Linked DNA regions of Homo sapiens. The protein of the gene in region 1 interacts with the protein of each later gene in a biochemical or structural test. Each region holds a gene or a part of one and is shown in the gene's direction. Other genes may lie near its edges.

The links.
Region 2: the proteins of ERG (region 1) and DNAJA4 form a complex in vitro, tested with the Homo sapiens proteins (one study listed by BioGRID).
Region 3: the proteins of ERG (region 1) and DNAJA1 form a complex in vitro, tested with the Homo sapiens proteins (one study listed by BioGRID).
Region 4: the proteins of ERG (region 1) and NFIC form a complex in vitro, tested with the Homo sapiens proteins (one study listed by BioGRID).

Annotation. Positions count from the first base shown.
Region 1 is NC_000021.9:38,488,455-38,495,483, reverse strand, and holds part of ERG (transcriptional regulator ERG), read left to right. Parts: intron 1-7,029. UniProt on the Homo sapiens protein: Transcriptional regulator. May participate in transcriptional regulation through the recruitment of SETDB1 histone methyltransferase and subsequent modification of local chromatin structure.
Region 2 is NC_000015.10:78,259,600-78,267,584, forward strand, and holds the start of DNAJA4 (dnaJ homolog subfamily A member 4), read left to right. Parts: upstream 1-4,962; 5' UTR 4,963-5,157; coding exon of another isoform or gene 5,158-5,164; coding exon 5,165-5,296; intron 5,297-5,881; coding exon of another isoform or gene 5,882-5,935; exon of another isoform or gene 5,936-6,038; intron 6,039-6,618; exon of another isoform or gene 6,619-6,643; coding exon of another isoform or gene 6,644-6,694; exon of another isoform or gene 6,695-7,985.
Region 3 is NC_000009.12:33,035,255-33,040,418, forward strand, and holds the end of DNAJA1 (dnaJ homolog subfamily A member 1), read left to right. Parts: intron 1-1,319; coding exon 1,320-1,435; intron 1,436-1,760; coding exon 1,761-1,861; intron 1,862-3,430; coding exon 3,431-3,649; 3' UTR 3,650-4,653; downstream 4,654-5,164.
Region 4 is NC_000019.10:3,460,567-3,467,595, forward strand, and holds part of NFIC (nuclear factor 1 C-type), read left to right. Parts: intron 1-2,185; coding exon 2,186-2,203; 3' UTR 2,204-7,029.

The DNA of each region.
Region 1 (7,029 bases):
CAGCCGGCAGCAGCATCAGGGGAAAGCATCTTAAAAATCAGACAGGACATGGAAAGTTACTAACAAGGCTTGGTGGAGACCTGAGGGCACCCTAGTGCTATTTCCATGACTTGCCTAAAGAAGTTACTTTTTTTTGAATTAACAGAGGTTGGAAGGTTTGATGGTAATTGAAACACGACCTGATAGGACTCAATTTTATTAATTTAAAGACATAAAGCTTGCATTATATACGCCACGTCTGCACATTTGCACTTCTTGAACGTTTGCTATCACATGTGAGGGAAACTTAATTAAGACTAAGAGTTATATGAAGAAAGTTAACTCCTCACAGAATTTTGATGGATGTGATTAATGAGTTTAATAGCTACAGATTTATGATTTTTCATCAACCTGTTGGCTAAGTGAAATACGAATTGCGTCAGTCCTTGTTACTTTAGGGGGATTCCGGGAGAATGGAAGGAAGGCCAGGGGCAAAATGCCGCTGCCCTGCTGTGCATAAGTCATTTCAGAGCATGCTCTGAGTGTTTGTCCTTGCCGAAAAGTGGCTTTACAGGCAACTACTTTAAAACAACTTGCTGCTTCCGTTCTTGGTCAGCTCTGTGATCCAGGCTGCCCTCTGTGGACACAGCACAGTTCTCCCTGGCCCTCTGCCTGTGTGTGCATGCACCCATGCATGCCAGGCACCCTGACTCAGTGACCCTGGAAAGCAGGATTGAGAATGGCTCCATCTGTGGGCTTTTCTTCCCCCATGAAATACAGTGCAGGACTGCAATGCTCTCAGACAATGTGCTGAGCCTGAACCATTTCTTAATTATCTACGTTTATAAGTGATTATCTCATAAAGTTTTTGTTTTGCAAAACAGATCTTTATTTAAACACAAACACAGGTTAACAACTCTTGAAAAAGCATACATAAAAATAAGTAAATGAAACAACCATTTCTGTTGTCTTCAGGAAAATATGACTGATACATTTAGAACTTTAGAATAAGATTCCCTCTGTGGGAGTGGAGACCCAAAGCCATTATAGGCATCCCAACAATTTGGCGGATTTATTGGTTTAACAGCTGATACATAAGAGAATCACAGAGTAAGGGCCATGGGGAAGCCAGACGGATGAGAGTTTCTCTGAAATGAGAAACCTCAGAGAAGAGACAGGGACAGTCTCCAGGCTGTTCCAGCGTTTGGTAGCACACTGTGCTCTGGCGGGGTCTTTTCTTTGGAGCTACCTCAAGGAGAGCCTTCTTGTCCCCTCCTTTGACCCCACAGGATAGAGGACAACTGCTCCCTGGCCTGGGGATTCTGTCAGACCACCCCTGATAGCGCTTCTCTCACCTTACGTGGCCGCAGACACACTTGCATTTGCTTCCTTCCTGTTGTGACCCTGGGCAAGGTAGCTAGCCTGTCTGATCTCAGTTTCGTCACCTGTAAAATGGGATCATAATGGCTACCCTGTCTCGCACCCATCCTCAATAAATGGCAGATGCCATCAGACGCCCCCCCGCGGATGTAACCTTTTCTACCGTATTGTCTTTCAGGCTCTGCACTCACTCGTCTCAACATTTCCCACGGCCCAGCTTCAGCTGTGAAGCCCACAGCCATAGACTGCTCTGATGTGCGGCCTCCCACACCCAGGCAGGGTACATCTGGGTCTGGGCAGCCACAGGACAGGGAAGGAAGGAGGAGGGAGCTTGCAGGGGTGCTTGTTAAAGGTGTAGCAGGGCAGGTACCACACACAGGGGCAGGTGGAGCGTCCAGGGGTCGCCCGAGGTGGTGCTGGTCAGAGAGGGTTGGCTTCGTCCTGTTCTGAGCCGAGGCTGCTGGAGGAGGGCAGAGGCCTATGACTGCATCGTGCTCCTGGTTAGGGCAGGAACAGCACCCTGGAATACCCCACTCTCCTCTTTACTCCTGAATTACAAAAAATACATCTTGTTCTTTAGCATAAATTATAAACATAAAAAATTCTTATGGTAGAGAAAACGTTTAAAAGTCATCACAAAGTCAATATAAATTGTTCAGATCCTAACCAACCACAGCAAATTCCTAACAATTGGGATATGTCTCTCCACCGTGTGTATCTGTTTGGCCTTGTATCTACCTACCTGTCCTGCTCTTCTCAGTTAGCATTGTTTTACAAGCATTTTCCCATGTTACTAACATTTTTTGATAAGCAAAATTTTTGTTTCATTATATTCTATCTAAAATATGTATTACCATTTTATAACCAATATCCTAGTGTATAAAGTGATGCTGCTTGCGATGTTTCACTCATTATATTGCAGTACACCATCTATTTAATTTTTTGAATACTTTTTATTAGTATTGGTGCCTAGAAAGGAATTATTGAGCCAATGGGTATATATATTTTTTAAGTCTTTGCCAAATTTAAATATTTGCCAATTTAAAAAATAATTACCAGATTATTCTCTGGAAGGATTATACCAGTTCTCCCTTTTTCTAGCCACATATGAGACCAGTTCCACACTACACCCATAACAACTCTGAATATTTTACTCTTTGAATCTTTGCCATTCTGACAGATAAGAACAGAATCTCATTTTTATTTGTACTTCTTTAATTTTAGTATTTCATTACATTTTTTTGTTTGTTTGCTGTGAACCCATTTTGGCTAGTGGTCCACTGTGACCTCTGGATTTTTTTTCTTATTTATACTTTTATTCTCTGTTTGGTCTAGCTTACTTTCCACATATTTCCCCTACTGAGCTTGGCCAAGACATGTTTTATAAAATTTCACATCGATTCCCATCTGTCCACTCTCCCACTCTTCATTTTCTTTCCTGTCAGCACATTCTCCCAGCTTTGCTTGTGTTTGTTGTTGAGTGTGAATAATTTATGTATACCCACTGATATCGCAGAAGCTGTTTTTAGTGATATCTTATCCATTTCTTCTGTGTCCTCAACAGTGACTGGCAAAGAGTAGAGGTTCAATAAGCACTTGTTGAAAACATAAACTTAAATTTTAATTATTTGAAATCATAAAGAGGAAGTTAAGATATCAGAGTAATGTAATTATCATTGTAGACTTCAAATAGAATTCTTATGTTTTTAGAGACATTTCTCCTAGTAAAATAACGTTAATTAAAATTGACTTAAATTGATGTTTAAGAAAGTATAAAAAATGTAGCTGTAGTATCTTGAATTCATAATCCAAACTAACATCATCCTAATAACTGCTTGTTATGTGCCAAGTCCTGTGCTAAACTCTCATAATGTCTCATGTGATCCTCACAGCAGCCTGGGTACTGCTGCTTTCTTACAGATAAGGACAAAGGATTAGAGAGGCGAAGTATCTTATACAAGTCACACAAATCTGTCTCCCTTCTCTTTATCATCTGATCTCTTTTTTCCTGCTATTCACCCTAGCTGTACATAGTGAATTACTGTGCAGAGAAACATGATGTATTAAGTGTTATGGAGACACATGAAATAATTGGATAATGAAAATTATTATCGCTGGTTACTTTATGTTATCTACTCTTCTGGGAAAAATCCCATAGGCAGCAATTCTTATACTCTAGGTGGCTAATCAAAACAAAGTTCTAGAAAATTCAAGAGGTAAAACTCTAGCACTGAATTCTATATTTGCTCAGTGACAAGAATTCTTTCCATATTTGGCGAGATCCAAGGGGCAGTGCTTCCAGATTCCAGATCAGCTGCTGATTTAAATTTCCTCATCCCAAGTATCAACTTCCTTGCACTCGTCTTGGGCGTCAATAATGAACACGCAGGTCAGAGTTTTCCATAAGGCCTTAACAAGTCTTTCAGCAGGGTGTTCATGGAATTAAACTCTGGGAAGAACGGTAATCTGCTGTTGTACACAGATAAGTACAGAGACATTTTGAAAAGAAATGCTAAGGCCAAGCAAAATGATTTATTTTTAAAGTGCCACATCAGAATCCAATCATAACATTAACCTCAGGGCTGTTACTTTAAACACGTTTGGTAAAAACAATGCTTGTCGAATTTTTGAAAATATAATAACTTTATGCAAAGATCCCGCACTCTTGCATTTAACACATTCCACTTTTTAAATCCTTCTGCCTTGATGATTTAAAATCTCCCTTGCTGGTTTTTTTGTTTTTTAAATTTACCAAGTATTGATACAGAATCAGCACTGAAGACAGGACCCTTCTGCTACCTCCACATTCACATTCCCCCCAAGGCCATTCATTCAGATCGTCAGCCAGCAGTGAGTTTCTCATCTCCATGCTCTTTGGGTTTCATCGGGTTTTATTGGGTCTTTTTTTTTTTTTTTTTAATTTTGACAGTGTGCACATGATGCTCACCTTTGAGGAAGAAGAAACTGTTGAAACAACACTTTAGAATCTGTCAACACAATTAGTTTGTGTCTCAATTTGAGGTAGATGTCCCAAGACATTGCTCCAAGTTAAAAAGAAAAAAAAAGTATGTGGTTTTGCATTGCGTAGTCCTCTTTGGATCCATACGATATGTGTGCCTTCCCTGACCTTCCAGAGAGCATCAAAAACATGAAGGTTGAATCCAGAGAGCACAGCCCACTTTTATCTTTGGCCCAGGGAGGCACTTGGTACTCTGTATTTCTTCGTGGCATCCTTAAAATAGCCTCTGTGGAAAAGGGATTGGCCTTATCTTCCGTGCAACGGATGGGAGGCATAGATATAGCTGCTGGCAAGGGGAAGTGGAAAGAGGCCCATCTGGGAGAGGGTGGCCCGGAGCTTTAGTTTGATGCTGCAGGACTTCCCCAGGTGAACGCACCTCTCCTGGCCCTAGCTCCCTTATAGGAAAATGGAGGTGGTCAGCTCCGCCTTCTCCACAGTGACCATCTGCTGACTGTGCTGCTGCCAGGACGCAGGGGGAGCTAACAGCAGTGCCCCTATCGGATCTTCAAACCGGGGAGGGGTCTCGTGCAGTGGGCAGGGGAAATGGGCTCCCACCTGGCTTTTGGGGTTCACTCCCTGGCTGTTCTACTTCCTGGCCATTTCACCTTTGGCAAGCCACAGCCTCACAGGAGATAGGCTTTTCCATCGGTGAAATGGGTAGAGTGATAGTTCCTACTTCACAGGGTTATAGTGAGATTCACCAAGTCGCAAGAGCCCAGAACTGTATATGGCACACATAAGCTCCTCAATCAAAGTTAGTTAATTTTACTATTCATTCAAGCCAAATACATTTTTCTTCTAAGACTAAAATCAGGGAATCTATGAAAAGCATTTCCCCCTACCTTTTTTTTTTCAATTTCTACAACAGTTTGTGAATTGAATTTTGTTTTCAATTAGCCAATTTGTCCATTTTCCTGTGATGAACATGTTTTTATCTCTTCATTATAAAGTAAGAACTCTGACAGACACAGTGAGCTCCCAATTATTCACGAGCACCTGATCTGCATTGGAGATTGCTTAAAACAGGGCTGGGAAATGCTTGCTGGTGAGTTCACCGGACACTGCACAGCAGGTCCTGGAAGGAGACATTCAGGGCGTTGTTAACTTCTGTGTCTCCCTATTCTTCTTATTCTCCTTCCATACTCTTTCTCTCTCATTGCAATCGCTATCCACCTGGAAGGCGGCTTGAAAAACACAAAAGACAACAAGGATGATGAGGGGGACCCCTCCTGAGCCTCTTAAATGCTGAGGGATCCTTCCTGGACCTGTTTTTATTCATTCCAAGCTGCCTCTCCTAGACAATCACTTCTCTTACCCCAGGAAATCTGGGACGGTGCAGGTTTGCAAGCTTGATCTGGAATAAAGAAACAAAGGAAAAGACGGACCAGGAGGCTTGGCCTACGCCAGGCAAAAGTCAGCAAAAGCAGCCACTACACATCTCCTTTTGAGTTCTAACTTTTCACTTTGTCTTGTGTGAACTCCTAAACTGGAAGCATATTTATAGTCACGTAAAAATAAGAATATTGTCCAAGGCCAAATGTAAGTGACTTTTATGAGTTATTGGACTTTGTGAATTACTCATTCTACCAACCTGAATTAACATAGATAGTTTTGTTGACTTTACCTTCTTTGTAAGCCAAACAGTATGAACTCGGTTAAGCCGGTCTTAGGAGAAAAGACATAAAATGTGTGTTGCTAGGATAGCATTCTAGTGAAGGAAGCCACTTCTTTGTTTCTTGTGCATCCCTGTGAGGGTACCTCTGTCCATCCCAAGAGCTGTTTTCATGGACTCACTGTTGAAAGCCCAAGCCTATTGTAACCAATTTTGATAAGCTGGTTACAAAATAAGCACATGTATACATTTTTTAAAGCCTTGTTCTTCTGGAGATGGAAAACATCTTTTTTTAGATCACATGTTTACTGCTTTGGTAAACAGTAAAATGCTGCTACAGCAATTACCTTGAGGATAAAGGGTTTGTAGACAGATACTTCCTGCGTTCACTTCCTACACAGATAGCCAGCCCAACCAGAGACGCACTGATGCAGGAAGGGCTCCCAGTGGAAACTTCCTCTCTCCGAATGCGTGGTCCATTATTCGTTATCTCCTCTCCAAGGGGAATAAGCTTGTTGCTCCAGATTTTCTAGGAGAATTCTGTCTTGAAACAGGTAAAAATATAAAGTTTCTAAAGTAATGATTACAGTACCTCGTTCTCATCCTCGGTGTCATCTACTCGGTGATTTTTAAGGGGACGTGATTAGACTAGAATAGACTTGTCTATGAGTAACATGCCCCGTAGGCACCTCTGTCTCCTTTGAATCATGGAAAATGATGCATAATTCGAATGTTTTTATATTTGGTAGAAAAATAAGTCTCTTTGAGATTCAATGGAAGGCCTTTTCTATGGTTAGTTGAAAGGTCATTTTAGATTTTGCTTTCTTTAGTCAAGCAGAGATTACCAGATTTGGGTACAAAAAATATCAGCTCACAGATTGTTCTCTGTGCTGATTTTACAGCAGTTACTAAATTCCAACGAATGCATTGTTTAGGCCCTTTGAACCGAAGCAAATAAAACCACAGTGCACACACACTAAACAATAGGGCATCATCAATTAGCCATCTACAGGATGTGTCCTTGCAGACTGGCCCCTTT
Region 2 (7,985 bases), on another chromosome or scaffold:
TAGTCTCTGAGCTCCTCGAGGACAGGCATAACCTTAATCTAGTGCTGTATTGTTGGTTCCCAGCACAGAGCCAGACACATAGCTGCTGTGCACAAATCCTGTTGTGATGAAATCAATAAATTTCATCGTGAGAACACGTGCTTTCTGCACATGGTAAGCCCTTTACACATTGTCTCCATTCATCTGTACAATAATTCTGTGAAGCAGATGTTCTTATCCCCATTTTGCAAAGGAGGAAATGGATGTTCAGAGAAAGCTAATTTGCCCAGGGTCACACAGCCAGTGAGGGGCAAGGCCTCTCCAAGTGGAAATCCCTCCCAATATTAAAACAATGGCCTGAAATGACAACTGCTGTTTCGGGGGCCAATAAATTAATGTCCTCCCCTTGAAGTACTGGTCCCCCCCATTCCCAGCCTCTCTGCCACCCAGGCACTGTCTCCTCTACCCCTCGCTGCTCTGGCCTTGCATGATTTTGGTCCTCTCTGCTTTCTGGGTTCTCCTCTTGCTTCTCCGATGGCTGTTGCTCCTTCCACTTCCTAAAGACAGGCGCTCCCCAACGCTTTTCCTTGGAGCTCTCTTTCTCCTTCTATGCCCTCTCTCTGGGCTTGCCTCTACAAACCGGCATGCCCAGCTTGGGCCTCTCCCAGGAGGTCCAGATCCACCCAGCCCCCGGGGTCTGCTGCTAGTTACACCTCTCAGAACGCAGGTCCTGCTCTGAAACCTTCAATGGCTCCCCAGGGCCCAGGAGAGCAGCAAACTGCTCCTCAAGGCATTCAAGGCTCTAGCACACCTGTCCCTGCTTCCCTTCCAATTCAGAGCCTTCATCCATCTGTGCTCTCTGCCTTTATCCTGCTGTCCGTTCAGCATGGCTGCCCTCCCTTTCCCTGCTGCTAAAGGGAGCTCTAACTTCCTGGTCTATGGCACATGTCCCTCGTCCATGAAGTCCTTCCTGACCCCCCTCCCCAGGTAGGTGTGGCTTCTCCCTCTCAGAAGACTCCTTGAAGACCCCATCCCAGCATTCCTTGGGTAAAACCTACTTCCGTGCTTGCTTTGACTCTCCTTCTACACTGGGTCAGAAAGGAAGCCCCACACTGCATCAAGGGACAATGGCTGTTCTGTATAATGTGGCTTCTTTGTCTAAAAGTCTCCCCAACTGTAGAATGAGATGGTAGAACTGGATCAGCATTTCCCAAATTTCTGTCATTCAAGTATCACCACTGTTGCTTTATTCTTGTACTACAGGTACTATCATACACTTACTATTTATCTACTCTTTTTTAAAAGAATATAAAAAGGAAACCATACATTGCTTACTGTGAGTGGAAAGTCAGTGTCACTTTTAATAAAAGTTGCAGTAATGAAAAGGTCATCATGAAAATAAACACATAACTGACAAAATAAGAAATGTCTGTGTAATGCCTCCAATCCTCCCAAGCATAATTCTGGGAAATAATCTACTAGATTGTCAGAGGCTTTGTCTAAGATAAACAAAGCTGAACAGTAGTTAAAATTGTAAGGACAGAATTTAATCAGTCATAACTATTGCAATAGGGAAAACAATCTAGTATGAACTGAGCTCAATATCGATTTGTACGAAAAGTAATTGGGCATTTTGAAAAGAACATGAGGGAATAGGGAGAAGGACAAGCAGCAGTTTAACAGAATCAGGGAAGTGAAAAATGACAAAGGGTTGGTCAGTGTAAGTGACATTAGGCCAGCTGTGTCTGCTAGCTGCCAATTGCCAAAGTTAGGATGCCGTTCTCCCAAAGAGACTGGGAGACAGAAGCTCTATCCTCAGGTGTTGGATGAAACAAAAACACAGTAAATATTTTGGCAGCCTTGAGTTTTCTCAGGCAGGCACTTTAAGAGGGGGTAGTGGGGCCAGGGTCACCTTAGGTAGGGGCCCCCAACTCCTAGGCTGCGGACCAGTACTGGTCTGTGGCCTGTCAGGAACCAAGCAGTGGCATTAGATTCTCACAGGAGCTTGAAATCTGCTGTGAACTGTGCATGCGGGGGATCTAGGTTGCATGCTCCTTATAAGAATCTAACGCCTGATGATCTAAGGTGGAACAGTTTCATCCTCCATTTTTTTTTCTTTTTTGAGATAGAGTCTTTCTCTGTTGCCCAGGCTGGCATGCAGTAGCACAGTCTCAGCTCACTGCAACCTCTGCCTCCCGGGTTTAAGTGATTCTCCTATTTCAGCCTCCTGAGTAGCTGGGATTACAGGCACGTGCCACCACACCTGGCTAATTTTTGTATTTTTAGTAGAGACGGGGTTTCACCATGTTGGCCAGGCTGGTCTCAAACTCTTGAGCTCAAGTGATCTGCCCACTTCGACCTCCCAAAGTGCTGGGATTACAGGCCTGAGCCACCACACCTGGCCAAAAATATCTGATTTTACTAGACAATCCTATTGTTATTTATTTTTTATTTTTTGAGACAGAGTCTTGCTCTGTCACCCAGGCTGGAGTGCAGTGGTGTGATCTCAGCTCACTGCAGCCTCTGCCTCCCGGGTTCAAGCGATTCTTGTGCCTCAGCCTCCTGAGTAGCTGGGATTACAGGCGAGCACCACCATCCCTGGCTAATTTTTGTATTTTTAGTAGAGATGGAGTTTCACCAAGTTGGCCAGACTGGTCTTGAACTCGTGGCCTCAAGTGATCTGCCCACCTCGGCGTCCCAAAGTGCTGGGATTACAGGTGTGAGCCACCACGCCAGGCCTTCATCATAGAATTATTGCCCACCCCCACCACCCTGTCCGTGACAAAATCGTCTTCCATGAAACTGGTCTCTGGTGCCAAAAAGCCTGGGAACTGGTGATCTTAAGGATGTGACGTTGAATTATTAGAAACTGTGTTGCTGTCTGTTCAGTCTTTATAGGCCAAGACTGAAGCCTAGTTGAGAAGAGGGCTCATAGGAGCCTGGCTAAGTTCCATCAAGAAGAGAATCACTATCAGCTTCTATACCTTAGCCCCTGCCCGCACCCCCCCACCCCCAAAAAGCATCAATATTGTGACTATATACCAGGTGTTTCACAAAGTTATGAAGTAGTTATAATTAATATCCTCATTAAAAGGTTAAGAAAACTGAGGCTCAGAAAGGTTAAGTTGTCTGCCCAAGGTTCCACAGCCAGAAGTAGCAGTGCTGGGATTTGAACCTAGGTCTAAGTCTCACTGGTTCCAGAATTCACTGTCGTCCAAAGTGCATAGCTCCATTCTATGTTTCTAGGCTCTGTCTTTAAGCCATCCCTCTCCTGCACATGCCCATTTTACGAATGCCTATGGTCCCGAGTACTAAATCTGGACAAGTATGTGACCCTGGGCAGTGGATCTCGGCTCTGGCTGTACCACCTGGGGAGCTTGAAAAACACTGATGCCTGGGCCTCACCCCTAGAAGCTCTAAGGTAACAGGTGTGGAGTGCAACCCAGAGGGATTTTTAGAAGATTCCAGGTGATCTCTGTCAGGAGCCAGGTTTGAGACCCACTGCGCTAGGAGTCTTCACAGTTATCATCCCATTTGATGCTTATAAGAGCCCTGTGAGAAAGGCAGGCAAGTGGCAATCCCCATGTCCTGCTGACGAAGAAAAGTGTTGAGATGCTAAGGCTCAGACAGTAAGATCTGGATAGAAAACAAAGTTTCTGACCTCTAGCTCTGAGTTCTCTGCCTAAAGGTTCTGCTCTACAAGGCATAATTTAAAAAAAAAAAAAGCAACATCTCCAAGAAGAGCAGCTTAATTTCTCTTGTACAGTACAAGTCACTTCTCACCCCCATGGAACACATGGAGGAGAGGTAGTACCTGCTTCAGCCACAGTACCCAAAACAAGGCCAGGGCATCCCAGGGAGGTGAGCAGTGACCCCCCTTTCTGACAAACTGTTCCCCTGGCAGAAGCCAAGGGAGGGCTAGGGGACAGGGGCCTGCAATTCTGTGATAGCGTTGGGGCCTGCTTTCCACGCCCACTTTTCTGCAACGGTTTGTGATCTGGACTCCCTGAGCACCCGTTGGGAGCTGGGGGCAGCCTAGGGAAGTCGGGACCTACTCCTGTACCCTTCCAAGGCAAGCATCCTGGGCCACCTAGCCGTTTCAGGGTCCAGGCCATGGGACCCCCTGTGCATAACACTGGGCCCAACAGCCTGGTCGGGCCCTGATGTTTGCTCACTGATGATGTGCAGAGGAGAGGGGGCAGTTTCCCACTTCTGGGAGAAGAGAGGGCACTGTCGGCCCTTGGCAGACTTGGGGGGCGTCACTGCCCATATGTGGGGGACGTCACTGCTCACCTTGAGGGACTTAAGGGTTCCCAGTGGTGGGCATTCGAGAGGATACTGTCCACATCTGGGGCCAGCAAAGGACCCCTGTACCTCAACTGGAAGGCCAGAGGTTCACCTCAGCCTTGCAGTCATGAGGCAGCAGAGGGCCCCTACCCACTCCAACCCCCTAAAAAATGCAACAATCCCAGGCACACCTTAGGCCGCAGCCTGGCTGTGACCGAACAGACGGCGGCCACACCCCCGGGGAGAGGCCGGGTGGGGACCGCAGGGCGCAGCTCTCCCAGTCCCACCCTTCGGCGCAGGGCTCCGGCCAACACAGCCCTCCAGGCCGCCTACTCTCCAGCCAGCCGGCTCCACGGACCCACGGAAGGGCAAGGGGGCGGCCTCGGGGCGGCGGGACAGTTGTCGGAGGGCGCCCTCCAGGCCCAAGCCGCCTTCTCCGGCCCCCGCCATGGCCCGGGGCGGCAGTCAGAGCTGGAGCTCCGGGGAATCAGACGGGCAGCCAAAGGAGCAGACGCCCGAGAAGCCCAGGTGAGCGGCTGGGCCGCGCCGGACGGGCGTCGGGGGTCTGGGCCGCGAACCCGCCGCGGGGCCGCCGGAACCTCCGCGAAGGTTCTAGGCCTTTGTGGCGTCACCGTCTCCTTGCGGAAGCTTCCGCCGGCGCCGAATAAAACCCGCCGCGGAGGAGCCGGTGGCTCTAGTGCGGTGGAGCCAGGCGTGGAAGTCGGTCCGGCGCGGGGCGGGGGGCGGGCGGGAGCTACAAGCGGCGGCGGCGGCGGCGACCGTGACCGTGACGCGCGAGCGGGCGGCGGGGGCGCGGGCCAGGGGCGCGGGCCAGGGTGCCGGCAGGGGCGTCCGGGGCGCTCTGACCGGCCTCGCCCGCCCCCCCCGCAGACACAAGATGGTGAAGGAGACCCAGTACTATGACATCCTGGGCGTGAAGCCCAGCGCGTCCCCGGAGGAGATCAAGAAGGCCTATCGGAAGCTGGCGCTCAAGTACCACCCGGACAAGAACCCGGATGAGGGCGAGAAGGTGCGGGGCGGCGCGGGGCACGGGCCGGGCTCCCGAGGGGCCAAGGGTTATTAAGCCAGGAGCATTGAAGGCGACGGGAAACCTGAGCCGCGTTTGTTGGGGAGGCTGTCGCCAGGCGCCTCGGGGCCAGGCCGGGCAGAGGTGGCGGGAGACCCTGGGCGCCGTGCGGCGCGGTCGGTGGAGGGCGCTTCGCCCGCGGAGGAGGCATGTGGTGCGGCACTTGGGTCCCTCGCGAGTCCCTGCCGAGCCCATTCATTCCTCCATTCGCTCCACAAGTGTTTGGGTAGCCCCTGCCGTGCGCGCCGGACTAGTTCTCATAGGGTGTGTTGGTTCCCTGTGGGAGAGGCGGCCTGGGAATCGGGAAACTGAGGCACACACAAACAGTTGTTTACTTGCTGGGAACGACTGGCTCATATTCTCTGTTGATGCATAAACCCTAGGGATGAGTGTCTTTAATCTGAGCTGGTACCTTGGACAAACGCCGTGCCTCTCTTGAGAATGACTAGCTGGATTTGTTCTGTGCACCTACTGCCTACCTGATAAAAGCGTCAGATAGTGAATAATCCCATTTTCTTTATTAAACAGGGACACGGACATCTGCAACCTGACATCAGCTTGTACTCATATTCTGGGTTTTCGGTGACAAGTGACACACAGTTGATCATAAGTACCAATCATAGACTGAAAATGCTCTGCATTTTAGAGACAGAAGTTAAAAGCTTTTCCATCCTGTTTACAGAAAGTTTGCTTTTTATCTCTAAAGAGGCTCATGACCCACCTGAATAGGTGAATTGAAGGATGAGGCATTGCAAGGAAAGGCTGCTAACCCTCCCGTTCCTCCTTTCACTTCTTGCCATTTTCTTACAAAACTTTGGTTGTTCCGCATGGGTCTTGAGAGGTGGGGCCGTTATAGTAGCTGATAGCAGTGTCACTTGGGCCACGTTTGAAACCACACCAATCACCCATGTAGCATTTAAGACCTGTGGAAACGACGCTGGAATCAAAATACCTGTCTGTGTTAGTTGTTCCAAGCTGGAGAAAGCTACTTCAGGACGGTTGGCTGAATGGCAACAGTGATGGAATATTTATATTTAGCCACATGTGCTGAATGTGGCTGTCACAAGTTTAAAATGCTTTCCTGTAAGACCATTTGTCTGTTACTCACTTGCGTTCTTTCTCATCTATATTTAGATGGCTTACTGTAGCTTTTAAAGGCACTGGCGTTTTACATGGTGCTGGTGATTCATCCACCTGCTCCCTACATTCATTGTGGTCCGCTTCTGACAGTCTCCTTTAAGGAGAGCTTGTAGGCTTCTAATTTCACATTTCAGCAAGCTGGCTAAAGACATGTGGGAAAGCCTGACCCTGGATTCAGGTCAAATCTCAGCACTCACAAGAGTAAGTTCATGCCTCTGTGTATACAGTTAGAGCTGAATATGCTTTTGTTCTGAAGCTTTTATTTTTAAAAAATTAGACTTGACCTGTACTACATATGTGTAGGTTTCACCCTGTCTATACCTGTCTGGGCAGGTTGTTTGGTTTGTTTTAAACTAATATTTATTCATAGCCAGGCACTGAGTTAGTGTCACATAAATGAGGCCCTTGGCAGTGAGGTCTGGCAGGCCCATCAGCTTGGAGGGAAGGGTTCTGTGATGTGCCCATTGCCAGGAATACTTTCCTTCCTCTACCTTCATGGAAGGGGATAAAACTCTTTAGTTCTCAGCTAAAACATCTTCCAGGAGGCTGCCTCTGCCTCATAGACTGAACCACAGGCCCAACGTGCATCCTACTTTAATGGTGATTACTTGTTTGATTAACTGTATTCCTTTAATGGTGATTACTTGTTTGATAACTGTATTACCTGCCATAATGTAAGCAGGGCAGTGACTGTGCCCCCATGGCCACTTATGGGGTGAGTATCTAGCTGTGCAGGGTAGGTGCTAAAATGTTTGTTAGCTGGCTGAGTAAATGCACTTTAAAAAATTGTGTGTAGGAGGAGAGGGCCCTATAAAGGCACAAATTGGAAGGGAAATTGCAGTGAAAGGGATATTGGGAGGAGAGTGGCAATTTAGATCGGAAATCAAAGAGGATGAGGAGACTGGGGACACAATTTATAGAAACGGCTGTAGAGTTCCCCAGAGAGAGCTCATTCATTCATTCATTCATTCATTCAACAAATACCTCCTCTTCTGGTCCCCACTGTGTGCTGGGTGCACTGTGCAGGCCTTTTGTGAGTGTGTATGTGAGTGTGTGTGTGAGTGTGTATGTGAGTGTGTGAGTGTGTGAGTGTGTGTGTGAGTGTGTATGTGAGTGTGTATGTGTGTGTAGTTCTTTTCCACTTTATCACAGGTAGAACCTTTAAATTTTTTTTTCCTCCTAAGTTCGTCACTGTATTATTAACGTCTCTTCAAAAATAGACTACACCAGTTCTTTACCCCTTGCTGGGAAAACTGAGAAGGCCGTTGAAATGTTGGTCTTTGTTTTTTGCCCTGTTGTCCCCTGTTGCTAAGCATTGGGGCACCTTGTGTTTTTTGGGCACTCTGTATGGAGTCTGTACTTCTCTGCGGGTGTTTTTTTTTTGTTTTTTGTTTTTTTTGCAAGATGCATGGGTGGTAGGTAGTGGGTCACCAAGATAGTCCCTTTTAGGGGCAATGATGTGGGGTATATTCTTGGCTATTACCCTGTTGAG
Region 3 (5,164 bases), on another chromosome or scaffold:
CAGGCCCTGAGGCAGGAGAATCACTTGAACACAGGAGGCAGAGGTCGCGGTGAGTTGAGATGGCGCCATTGCACTCCAGCCTGGGCAAAAAGAGCAAAACTTGGTCTCAAAAAAAAAGACTAATATTTTACAAATGTCTGAAGATAATGGGAAATGTTGTCAAGCTCAGGCTTTTGATGCTGTCATTTGAGAAGGGTATTAAAGATGTTTTATTTATTTATTTATTTTTTTTGAGATGCAGTTTCGCTCAACAGGCCCAGGCTGGATTGCGATGGTGAGATCTTGGCTCACTGCAACCTCCAACTCCCAGGTTCAAGCAATTCTCTCACCTCAGCCTCCCGAGTAGCTGGGATTACAGGCGCCCACCACCACGCCCAGCTGATTTTTGTATTTTTAGTAGAGACGGGTTTCACCATGTTGGCCAGGCTGGTATCGAACTCCTGACCTTAGGCAATCCACCTGCCTCGGCCTCCCAAAGTGCTGGGATTACAGGCATGAGCCACCGCGCCCAGCCTAAAGATGTTTTATTAATGTGGGTTGGAAAAGGAAAGTCTAAGCATGAGAAGGAGGAAGTGGGCTGTTAACGTTAAATATGAAAGGCTGTGTTCACTCACAATATGCCAGGAAATATTATTTCAGGTTCATCAATGAGGAAATTGTTAGAGTCCCTTTAAATTGGACATATCCTCATTGTTTAATTTCATAGAGCCTAAATTATCTAGGACCCTGCCCAGGCTAGAGTGCAGTGGCACGATCTCAACTCACTGCAATCTCTGCCTCCAGATTCAAGTGATTCTCCTGCCTCAGCCTCCCGAGTAGCTGGAACTACAGGTGCGCGCCACCATGCCTGGCTGATTTTTTGTATTTTTAGTAGAGATGGGGTTTCACCATGTTGGCCAGGCTGGTCTTGAACTTCAGACCTTAGGTGATCCACCCTCCTCAGCCTCCCAAACTGCTGGAATTACAGATGCGAACCACAGTGCCTGGCCTAACCCTCACTCTTGTGAGTTGTTTTTTTTTTTTCCCCTCTGAGAAACCAGATTTAAAACTAGGTAATGAAACAGTTCACTGATGGTAAATGGTAAAGGCTGCCTAGAGTGTGTGGAATGACTTTGAATCCTTAACTAGGAAACGGGGCTGGCAGGTTGCACATGTTTGCTCTTCCCAGATCTCTGCTCTGCTTGATTTTTACAATGGGGGAAGAAAAGGGTGTCTTTGTAAAAGACCCTTTGCTTTTATTAAACAAAAAAACAGCCTGCTTTGGTACATCTACTGATTCGTGATTTGAAAAATATAAATATGTGTCATATTTTATGCAGACGAGGAGAAGACCTTTTCATGTGTATGGACATACAGCTCGTTGAAGCACTGTGTGGCTTCCAGAAGCCAATATCTACTCTTGACAACCGAACCATCGTCATCACCTCTCATCCAGGTATGGGAACTAGGCAAGCTTAAACTTCTCTTTTCTATTCTAGTATTTTCCTTGTCTCCTGTTAACAAAGTGTAGTATAGGCACTGAGGGAAACCCATTGTTTTTCTTTCTCGGTTACATATCCTTCTCTGGGCTTAGATGAAGTTATAAGGTCTTGGCTCTCTTGTCAGCCCTTGGAAAACCCATAAGTGAAAGGTAACAGGATTGCTTTGCCACGTAAGTTTTACTCCTGCCAATGAGCTAGGACAGTGCTCTGTTCTTTATATTCCCTGCCTCATAAAAATGTGACCATACTTAAGGAAGAACTTGGCTTCAATGTTTTTAGGTCAGATTGTCAAGCATGGAGATATCAAGTGTGTACTAAATGAAGGCATGCCAATTTATCGTAGACCATATGAAAAGGGTCGCCTAATCATCGAATTTAAGGTAAGCTGTAATGTACTTTAAGAATACTTGAGAACAATTGGCTTACTAAAATCTGATAAAAAAGTAAAATTTCAGCCAGGTGCAAGTAGCTCATGCCTGTAATCCCCGCATTTTGAGAGGCTGAGGCAGGAGGATCCCTTGAGCCCTGGAGTTTTGAGAACAGCCTGGGCAACATAGTGAAACCCTGTCTCTTTAAAAAAACAAAAAAAAAAAAAAATTAAAATTTCTGAATGCCTCAGAACCTGAAACTTACATTTTTCCACAGCAAGAAATATATGGATCTGGCCACGTGCCACTGGCACACACCTATAATCCCAGTGCTTTGGGAGGCCAAGACAGGTGGATTGCTTGAGCTCAGGAGTTAAAGGCCAGCCTGGGCAACATGGCAAAACCCCATCTCTACAAAAAGTACAAAAATTAGCCAGGCATGGTGGCACACACCTGTAGTCCCAGCTACTCGGGAGGCTGAGGTGGGAGGATTGCTTGAGCCTAGGTGGTCAAGGCTGCAGTGAATCAAGATCGTGTCACTGTACTTCAACCTGGGTGACAGAATGAGACCCTGTCTCAAAAAAAGAAAAAAGAAAATTTACCTAATAACTACTTCTGTCATGTTGAGCATTCTTTGTTAACAAGTTGAGGATGGGGTTTTTTGCATCATTAATTGGATATTTAAAGATAGGTTGTGGGAAGGGTGTGTGGGACAAGTGGGTATTTTACTAATGAAAGGTTGTAACTGGCATCTTAAAGTTGAGAGGTGCTTTATAATAATTGCAGATTTCTTGGCAAAATAGTGTAATGCTTGATTTGTTAATAGGTATAAAGCAATCCAGTCATTTTCCTGAGTCTTAAATTGGCCTGTCACCATAAAAATATTAATTAAAACTTTTTTTTTTTTTTTTCCTTTTTGAGACGGGAGTCTTGTTCTGTCACCCAAGGTGGAGTGCAGTGGTGCGATCCTGGATCACTGTAACCTCCACCTCCTGGGTTCAAGCAGTTCTCCTGCCTCAGCCTCCTGAGTAGCTGGGAATACAGGTGCCCGCCACCACGCTGGGCTTTTTAGTAGAGATGGGGTTTCACCATATTGGCCAGGCTGGTCTCAAACTCTTGACCTCAGGTGATCTGCCCATCTCAGCTTCCCAAAGTGTTGGGATTTGTAATCCCAATTGTATGAGCCACCGCGCCTGGCCTAAAAACATCTTTGGTAAGGAAGAACTACCCTTTTGAGAGTAAGAATAGCTTTGTTTAAATATGTCGTAAGAAGGGTTAGGCTGTTGCAGGATGGGTTTTGGTATTAAAAAGTCAGTTTGCTGGATAGAACAATGGTTGTTAAAGTGCAGTTTTATTTAATACAATCATTTTTAATAAAGCCTGACTTCTGGTCATAATCCTTGAACTCTAGTTCAGAGTGTGCTATGCACTGTGCCTTTTTAGAGCCTGTTCTAACCTGAGATTGGCAGATTCACCTAAATATTACGTGTTTACATGTGTTTTTCTGGGGAAAATGGGTCCATGATACTCTAAGGGAGCTAATGATGAAATCAGATTGAACAGTGAAAGTTTCTTTTGAAGGTAAACTTTCCTGAGAATGGCTTTCTCTCTCCTGATAAACTGTCTTTGCTGGAAAAACTCCTACCCGAGAGGAAGGAAGTGGAAGAGACTGATGAGATGGACCAAGTAGAACTGGTGGACTTTGATCCAAATCAGGAAAGACGGCGCCACTACAATGGAGAAGCATATGAGGATGATGAACATCATCCCAGAGGTGGTGTTCAGTGTCAGACCTCTTAATGGGCCAGTGAATAACACTCACTGCTGGCATTTAATGTGCAGTAGTGAATGAGTGAAGGACTGTAATCATAATATGCTCACTACTTGCTCTTGTTTTTGTTTTAATAAACTATAGTAGTGTTTTAAAAAGTTAAATGAAGAATAAACGCAAATATAAAAGCTCTGATTTTGCCCTGTATGTATGATGACTTCAGTGTGCAAGATGAAGTTTAATACCTGTAAAAACTACAAAGAAGTTCCCCTAGCATTTCTAGGCCAAACCTTGTAATTGACTTCAGCTATGTACGTGGACAAGCTTAGACTGAAATGCTAGGTATATGTATTGGCTTCAGTGTATGACCCTTCATTGTTAAGCTATGAAAGTAAAACTCTGTATTTAACTGGCAATGAGGAAAAAAAAATTTTGTAGAGAAGTGTTGGTCTGTATAGTTCTTTATATTAAGTGGGATTCATTGTAATGCCTCTGCATTTATTCTGTTGCCTCAGCTGTTACTTGAAGATGGCGTAATATATAATTTATCCTGTGGTATCAGTGATAAAAATGATACCTTTCTGTAGGAGGGGTTTATCATAATATGCTGCTTCTTGAAGGCTTGCACTTCCAGAATTGTGTTTCCTTCTGCTGTGCCATTCATATATATATACATATATATATATAATCTTGACCAGTCCTGGTCATTTGCTCCCCTCCTTGTCTGTGGACCATGATAAGCCCAAGTAGTGACTTCAGAGCTGGGTAACAGAAATTAAAGTGAAAAGACCTTTACGTGGAGAATTTGCATGCGTAATATAGGAAGGTGTTCTTTAGGTATGTTACAGGATTACTTTAAACCATTTGACTTTCGCTCCAAAGTTATGTTGGTAGTATAGCAAATTATGATGAATAGCTTTAATTGTATGTTTAAAAGTCTCATATGTTCACATGCTTAAATCTGGGTATCAGAATTTAAGCAATTCTTGAAATGTATTGTCTCCTTAATATACTAATTACAAAGCATCTCCAATGTGTGTCACTACAGGCTTTTTTTTCCCAGATCATCAAATTTTGGCTTTTAACTAAGATACATAGCTTTATTTTAGCTAGTCTGAATGAGTGATACAAAAATACTATTGAACTATAGTTAAATAATATTAAATAGGATGGAGAGTAAAAGTGGAGGACTGGGTAATGAGCCAAGAAGAAGGGGACTTAGAAAACTGCAAACATTGGAGTGAGCATGAGAGAACAAGTTCTCATAAAGAATACAAGTTTAAAAAGGAGAAAAACTTTAAAAAATAAGGTTCCCAAACCATCAGTGTTTGTCAACTTCCTTTTAGTCTGTGCCAGCCACCCACAGCTACCCTAAAGTTGGAGATGTGAAGCAGATGTTCAGGAAAGTATAATTGATCGGTGTTCAAAAAAGTGCTTTGTGACAGATTTCACTTTTCACTGGGTTTATGTACAAATTCTAAAAATCTCTGAACCTGTATTTTAATGCATTTAAGAGCATTGTTTAGGCCAGGCATGGTGGCAGT
Region 4 (7,029 bases), on another chromosome or scaffold:
GCAATGGCACGATCTTGGCTGACTACAACCTCCGCCCCCTGGATTCAGACGATTCTGCTGCCTCAGCCTCCCGAGTAGCTGGGATTACAGGCACGTGCCACCACGCCTGGCTAATTTTTGTATTTTTAGTAGAGACAGGGTTTCACCATGTTGGCCAGGCTGGTCTCGAACCCCTGACCTCAGGTGATCCACCCACCTTGGTCTCCCAAAGTACTGGGATTACAGGCATGAGCCACCGAGCCCAGCCTCTTGTTTACTTTTTAAAAACATTCTCAAGGCCATGTGCAGTGGCTCATGCCTATAATCCCAGCACTTTGGGAGGCCAAAGCAAACGAATAAGCTGAGGTCAGGAGTTTGAGACCAGCCTGGCCAACATGGAGAAACCCCGTTTCTACCAAAAATACAAAAATTAGCTGGGTGTGATGGCGCATGCGTGTAATCCTAGCTACTCGGGAGGCTGAGGCAAGAAAATCACTTGAACCCGGGAGGCAGAGGTTGCAGTGAGCCAAGATCGTGCCACTGCACTCCAGCCTGGTGACAAGAGCGTGACGCTGTCTCAAAAAATCAACAAAAAACCTCTTTATAAAGTGAACAAGGCAGCTGATGTGGTGGCTCATGTCTGTAATCCTAGCACTTTGGGAGGAAGGAGTTCAAGGCCAGCCTGGTCTACATGGCGAAACCCCACCTCTACAAAAAAAAAAAAAAAACTAGTCAGATGTGGTGGAACATACCTGTGGTCCCAGCTACTCGGGAGGCTGAGGTGGGAGGATCACTTGAGCCCAGGAGATGGAGGCTGCAGTGAGCTATGATGGCACCACTGCACTCCAGCCTGGGCAACGGAGCAAGACCCTGTCTCAAAATAAAATAATAAATTGGCTGGCCACAGTGGCTCACGCCTGTAATCCCAGCACTTTGGGAGGCCAAGGTGGGCGGATCACTTGAGGCCAGGAATTCAAGACCAGCCCGGCCAACATGGCGAAACCCGGTCTCTACTAAGAATACAAAAATTAGCTGGGTGTGGTGGGGCGGGCCTGTAATCCCAGCTACTTGGGAGGCTAAGGCACAAGGATCACTTGAACCCAGGAAGCGGAGGTTGTAGAGAGCCAAGATCACACCACTGCATTCCAGCCTGGGCAACAGAGCAAGACTCTGTCTCATAAATAAATAATAAATAGAGAAGAAAATAATTTTTAAAATATAAAATAAAGGCCAGGCAGAGTGGCTCACGCCTGTAATCCCAGCACTTTGGGAGGCCGAGGCGGGCGGATCACGAGGTCAAGAGAGTGAGACCATCCTGGCCAACATGGTGAAACCCTGTCTCTACTAAAAATATAAAAATTAGCTGAGTGTGGTGGCATGCGCCTGTAATCCCAGCTACTCGGGAGGCTGAGGCAGGAGAATCACTTGAACCTGGGAGGCAGAGGTTGCAATGAGCCGAGATCATGCCACTGCACTCCAGCCTGGCAACAGAGCGAGACTCTGTCTCAATAAATAAATAAATAATATAATATAATAAAGTAAGATTGAGTTCCAGACTGGGAGTGCTGGCTCACACCTGTAATTCCAGCACTTTGGGAGGCCGAGGAAGGTGGATCACTTGAGGTCAGGCGTTTGAGACCAGCCTGGCCAACATGGTGAAACCCCATCTCTACTAAAAATACAAAAATTATCCAGGTGTGGCGGTGGACGCCTGTAATCCCAGCTACTCGGGAGGCTGAGGTAGGAGAATTGCTTGAACCCAGGAGGCAGAGGTTGTAGTGAGCCAATATCACGCCATTGCACTCCAGCCTGGGCAACAAGAGCGAAACTCCATCTCAAAAAATAAAATAATAAATAAAATATAAAATACAGTTCCAGATAAATGGATCTTTTGTGTGTGGTGTGTAAGTATATCCCCAATGTTGCGTGGGCTAGACTTATACTAAAAGAATTCTGTGTTAACCAGAACTCCAGTTTCACTGGGCATCCTGTACTGTGTCTGGAAGCCTCCCTCAGAGACAAAGTCACTTGCCATGGGTCACCCAGCAGGTTGTTAGAGCCTGGGATGGGGAAACTGAGGTCACAGGGTTGCAGGAGGTGGGGGGTGAGCGTGGGAAGAGGTAAACCATGTCTGCAGCAGAGTCTGACCCCTCGACTTCTCTCCCTTTTTCTCTCTCCCTCTTTCTGTCGCCACTGGGCCACTCAGTCCTGGTATCTGGGATAGCAAAGGTCTTCTTCCCTCGCCCCTTCTCCATCGTCCCAGGAATCCCAGGGGGCAGCACAGCCGGCCCCCGGCCCACGTTTTCGGTGGAAAATTAGAGTGAACAAGAACACCCCTGCCGACTCCCAGCCCGGCCAAAAAGACAAAACACATAGACGCACACACTCAGGAGGAAAAGAAAAAACAAAGGCAGAAGAAGAAGAAGAAGAAATAAAAACCCACCCAAGCAAGAAGACAAAAGGTAAAGACGCAACGTTTCCAACTCTCGGGACGCCAAGGCCGCAGGACTGGAGGGCCAGGCCCCGCCACCCCCACGGGAGACCCGGGACAGGGCGTCTTCCTAAGTTATTCATCTCCTCTCCGCCTGCTGCTCGGGAAGGACAGACGCCGGCCGCCCGCCCGCGCCCCGGAGGCCCTGGCTCTGTCCGGAGACCAGGTGAGCACAGCCTGGAGCCTGTGCCCAGGGCCGACAGGCGCGACACCCAGCAAGGCCACCTCTCCCCGGGCCCCCGCGCCTCTGCCGGACACGGACCGGCCCCTCAGCCCCCACCGAGGACGCAGCCACTGGGGGGAAAGGGAGACACAGCGGACCCCGGCCGGGCAGCGGAGACCGCAGAGGCGGGCAGGGTGGGGCAGGCGAGTGGTGTCGCGGGGGTGCGTGGCGCTTGCGAGCCCTGGCCAGGGGAGGAAGTGAGGCCCAGGCACCTGCTGCCCCTCGAGGGGGCCCTGCCTGCCGCGGGGCCTCCCCACAAGCCCCTCCCAAAGCGCCGGCCGACTCGCTGTCTCGCTGGGGACTCTTTCAGCCCTCGCGCCCGCCCGTTTGGGAGGAGAAGTCTCTATGCAATTGGCCCCGGCCCCTCCACCCCCCACCCCCGGCATAGGAGGCCCCCCCACCTCGCCCGGCTCACACCCCCAAAGGGAGGGACCCACATTGCACACACTGTAAGAAATGCACTTTCCGAGGAAGGGGATGGGGGAGCCCGGACACCCAGAGCTCCCCGAGTTGGGGGTGCCCGTCTGGAGCGCCCCCGTCAGCCCCTGGCGGTGGGAGGTGAGAGCGAGTGGTTTAAGTGCCTGATTACCACCACCCGCCCCCCCCTTTGTCCAGCTGGGACACGGAATGGCCGCGGGCCTCCTCCCCCTCCCCTCCAGCCTCTCCACCAGCCCCTCCAGTCAACCCTCATCGCCGTGCCCCCCCAGAGCTAGAGAGATGGGGCCCCTGCGTGGCCCGAGGGGCAGAGCTGGGCGTCACTTCGCAAGCGTCCTGCCCTGCCGGGGCGCGGGGGTGGGCTCTGGGGAAGCCGGTGCGCCCCCCACGCCTCCGCTGCCAGTGCCTTACATTCTGGAGCGACCCCCCTCCCTGGTGCCTCCCAGCGAAGGGGGACCGCCGTTTGCACTTTCATCGCCTACCCCGACGCGGGGCCCAGCTGCGGGACGTGCATCACGGCTGGGCCCCCAGAGGAGAGAGGAGGCCGACGCCAGCGGTCCCCGCTCGGAACGGGGAGGGTTTTCGGGGGGTTCGGCGTCGCACCTTGGGGCCCCCCGCAGCCGTGTAGGGGGCCTCCCATCTGCTAAGCGTTTTTCCGTTGAGCCGCTCCAAAAACACTAAGCTGGGGACGCCAGGTGCCCCCCCACCCCGGCTCCCTGGCCCTATCCACACCTCCACCCCCACCCCAGGATCGCCATCTTTAGGGGAGGCCTGGGAGGGGGTGTTAGGTGTTTTAGGGCCACCGAGCTCAAACACAAGGACCCCTCCCCGGCCCACCCAGCCCAGCCCCAACTGACCTCCATGCCTAGGGAAAAACTCCCCCCACCACTGCCCCCTCCCCCGACCCAGGCCAAAGCCAGGGCAGGTCTCCGGGTCTCACCTGCTCCTAGCCTCACCCCCCTGCCCCCGAAAACCAGACTCTCCTCCCAAACTAGCCTCAGGAGCTTGGCGAACCCGCTCGCTCCTAAAGAGAAAGACCCAGGACCCTCCCCCATCACCCCCAAGAGAGGTTCGCCATCCTCTGGCCTCGAGCCCTTGGTCCCTCCGTCCGTCTGTCCTCGGGGCCCGCTCCCCCGGTGGCCCTTGGGGATCAAAGCGTGGGCCGCTCTCCGGGAGGGCGGGCGGGGGAGGGGGTGGTCGGGTTGTGCCATTGGGGTGTCCGGAAGCTTCTCAGCCAGGGTGGGGGTCGTGGAGTGGGGGAGGGAGGCCAGCCGGGCTCCAGAGGGGTCAGGGCGCGACGAGAACCAACTCTTTACCTAACTTTGCATGGTGCTTAGTCAAGGACTCCTGCGACCTGGCTCCCGAGGTCAGCTGGCGGCGCTGACACACATGCATGGCAGACTATCCCTGGCTCTATCTCCCTGTTCCTCGCCCCCTCCACCCCCCACTTCCTCTTTAAAAAAAAAAAAAAAAAAAAAAAGATACAAGAAAAACCTTTAAAAAAATTCCATGTTTCCTAATTTGCACGAAATTTTCTACCACAAGATGTGCCTTGCCTTCCGAGAATAAGTATTACCTTTAAACAATATCAGCGCACACACATAGCTGCATGTTCTGCTCGTGTAGTTTAAAAAAAAAAAGACAAAACAGTGACATGAAATAAAAAATAAAAATTGAAAAGGGATGTATTTCTATTTGTAAAAAAAATAAAATAAAAAATAAGAAAGTGAGAATCTAAAAAAAAAAAAAAAAAAAAAAAAGGAAGAAAAACCACGCTAAAAATCAAGCCACTGAAAACAATTGCCCCCAGGTCTACCCAGCCCCTGGCTGTCCTTGGTCCTGTCTCCCCTCCTGCTGTATTCAGGGGTGCCCCCTGGTGCTCAGCCTCTACCACCCCCAACCCTGCTCTTGGGTACCCAGAGGGGTCATTTCTGAATCCCTTGCCCAGAGGACAGACCTCCGGGGCCCATCTTGGCCCTGGGAAAGGGCTCTCCTCTCTGATTGGTCCCTAGGCCACGGGCCGGCCCCCAGACACCATTCACCGACCCACTGCAGGCTGTCCTCCAACCATGGGGTGGCCACTCCACCCGCAGCCAGACTCCCCGCTCCCCACTTTTCATGCAGGCTGGCATACCCCTGGCTCAGGGTCAAATGCTGTTCCACACCCACCTCAGAGGCACCCCCTCTCCCCTGCCCCGTGCATCCCCACCCTTCTTGCCAAAGGACCTCTTTTCCCCTATCCAGAGACCACCCCAGGTGGCATTCTCTCCCACCTTCTCCTTTGTCCCCCATCCCCTGTCTCTGTCTTCCAGCTGTGAATATGAAGGGTATCCTGTATGAAACAAAAACAAAACCTGATATATGCAATATCTGTCTGTCTGTCTGTACCCATGGGCCTGGCTCAGCCATTGGAGGCCCAGCCGAGGGTCCGGCAGGGCACAGGGACAGCCAGGTGGCACCGAGTCACAGGCTGTGGTCCGGTGGCTGAGCATGCTGTTGTCTTGTCCTTGATTTTATTTTCTTTTGTTCTTTTTTTTTTTCTTTTCTTTTTGTTTTTAACTCCAGCTTCCTTTGCTTTTTACTTGACCAAAGCTAAGACAATAGCCAGATGGTTAGTGGGGCAGCCAGGCAGGGAGGACCCAGGGCTGGGATTCTCCAACCTTAGGCCATTCCTGCAGCCCTCACCACCTCCAGCCCCTCCAAGCATCTCGTGTAGGGACCCACGCAGATGGTCCCATTCATTCACTATTGCCCCCAACCCCGGGATTTTGGGTGGTCTCCACAGCCACCATCATACACTCATCCCGTGTTTTCTTCCAAAAAGTCACCTCAGCAGCCTCCCCAGGCGATACAGAGGGAGAGCCCAGACCACCACAGCTGGCCACGACATTGCCCTTAAGTAATATGCATTGGCCAGAGAGCCCGGGCTGGCTGTGCACAGCATTCATGTAGCTGATTTCTAGCTTTTTTTTTTTTTCTGCCCCACTCCTGAGCAAATCTGTCTTGCCAAGGAACTAGGAGCAACCGGAGGCAAAGGGAGTGGGTGGCCCCATCACTATTGGGACCATCGCGTCCCTGCACAGCCCACACCCGGGGGCCCAGAGTCCTGGGCTGGACGCCACCCTTCTCACCCCGAGCTTGCCTCCTTGGCTCACTTGGCACCTTGGCTGAGTACAGCAGGCAAAAGCCCATACCAGGCAGCATGTTGTGGATGGTTTAGTTCTCCCCGCCTCCCTGTTTCTTGGAAAAGCTACAGGGTCCCTGTAGGGCAAAATTCCCAGGCGCCTTGCTGCAGACAGAGTAAGACAAAAACACCAGGAAGCAGGATTCCGTGCCCATCTCTGCAGTTTGGGTTCACAAAAGGGGGTGCCGTCATCCCTGGGTGGAGGAGGGAGTGTTGGTTTTTTGTTTTTGTTTTTTTAACATGTATGAAACTGACATCTTCTCAAATCTTGTTCCACCCCCCTCTGGAAGCCCCCATCACCCACCCCTGCTATGGACACCACACCTATGCCAGGCCCCCCCCCCCACCCCAGTCTCATTCTGGGGTCTGCCCATGCTGTGGGAAAGAATAGGGAGGCCTCCCAAATATATGCAAATTGTCCCCATTCCGTGGGGGCACCTGACAATGACCCGGGTGGAGATGGGGCATGGAGGAGTAGGAAGACCCAGCCCTATTTGACTGGGGAGAGGAGGATCTGGAGTCCTTCATGCCCAGGTCTGGAACCCAGGTTCTGACCCCAGGGCCCCACCCTGGGCTGGACAATCAGATCCCAAAGGAATGCCAAAGGGGACTCGGTTGGGAGAGCCGCTTAGGGGCCAGACCTGGGTCCCCCTGCAGGTCCCCAGGCAGCAGACAATTCCACCTTCCCTGCCCCAGGACCTTGAGAGACAGCAGCAT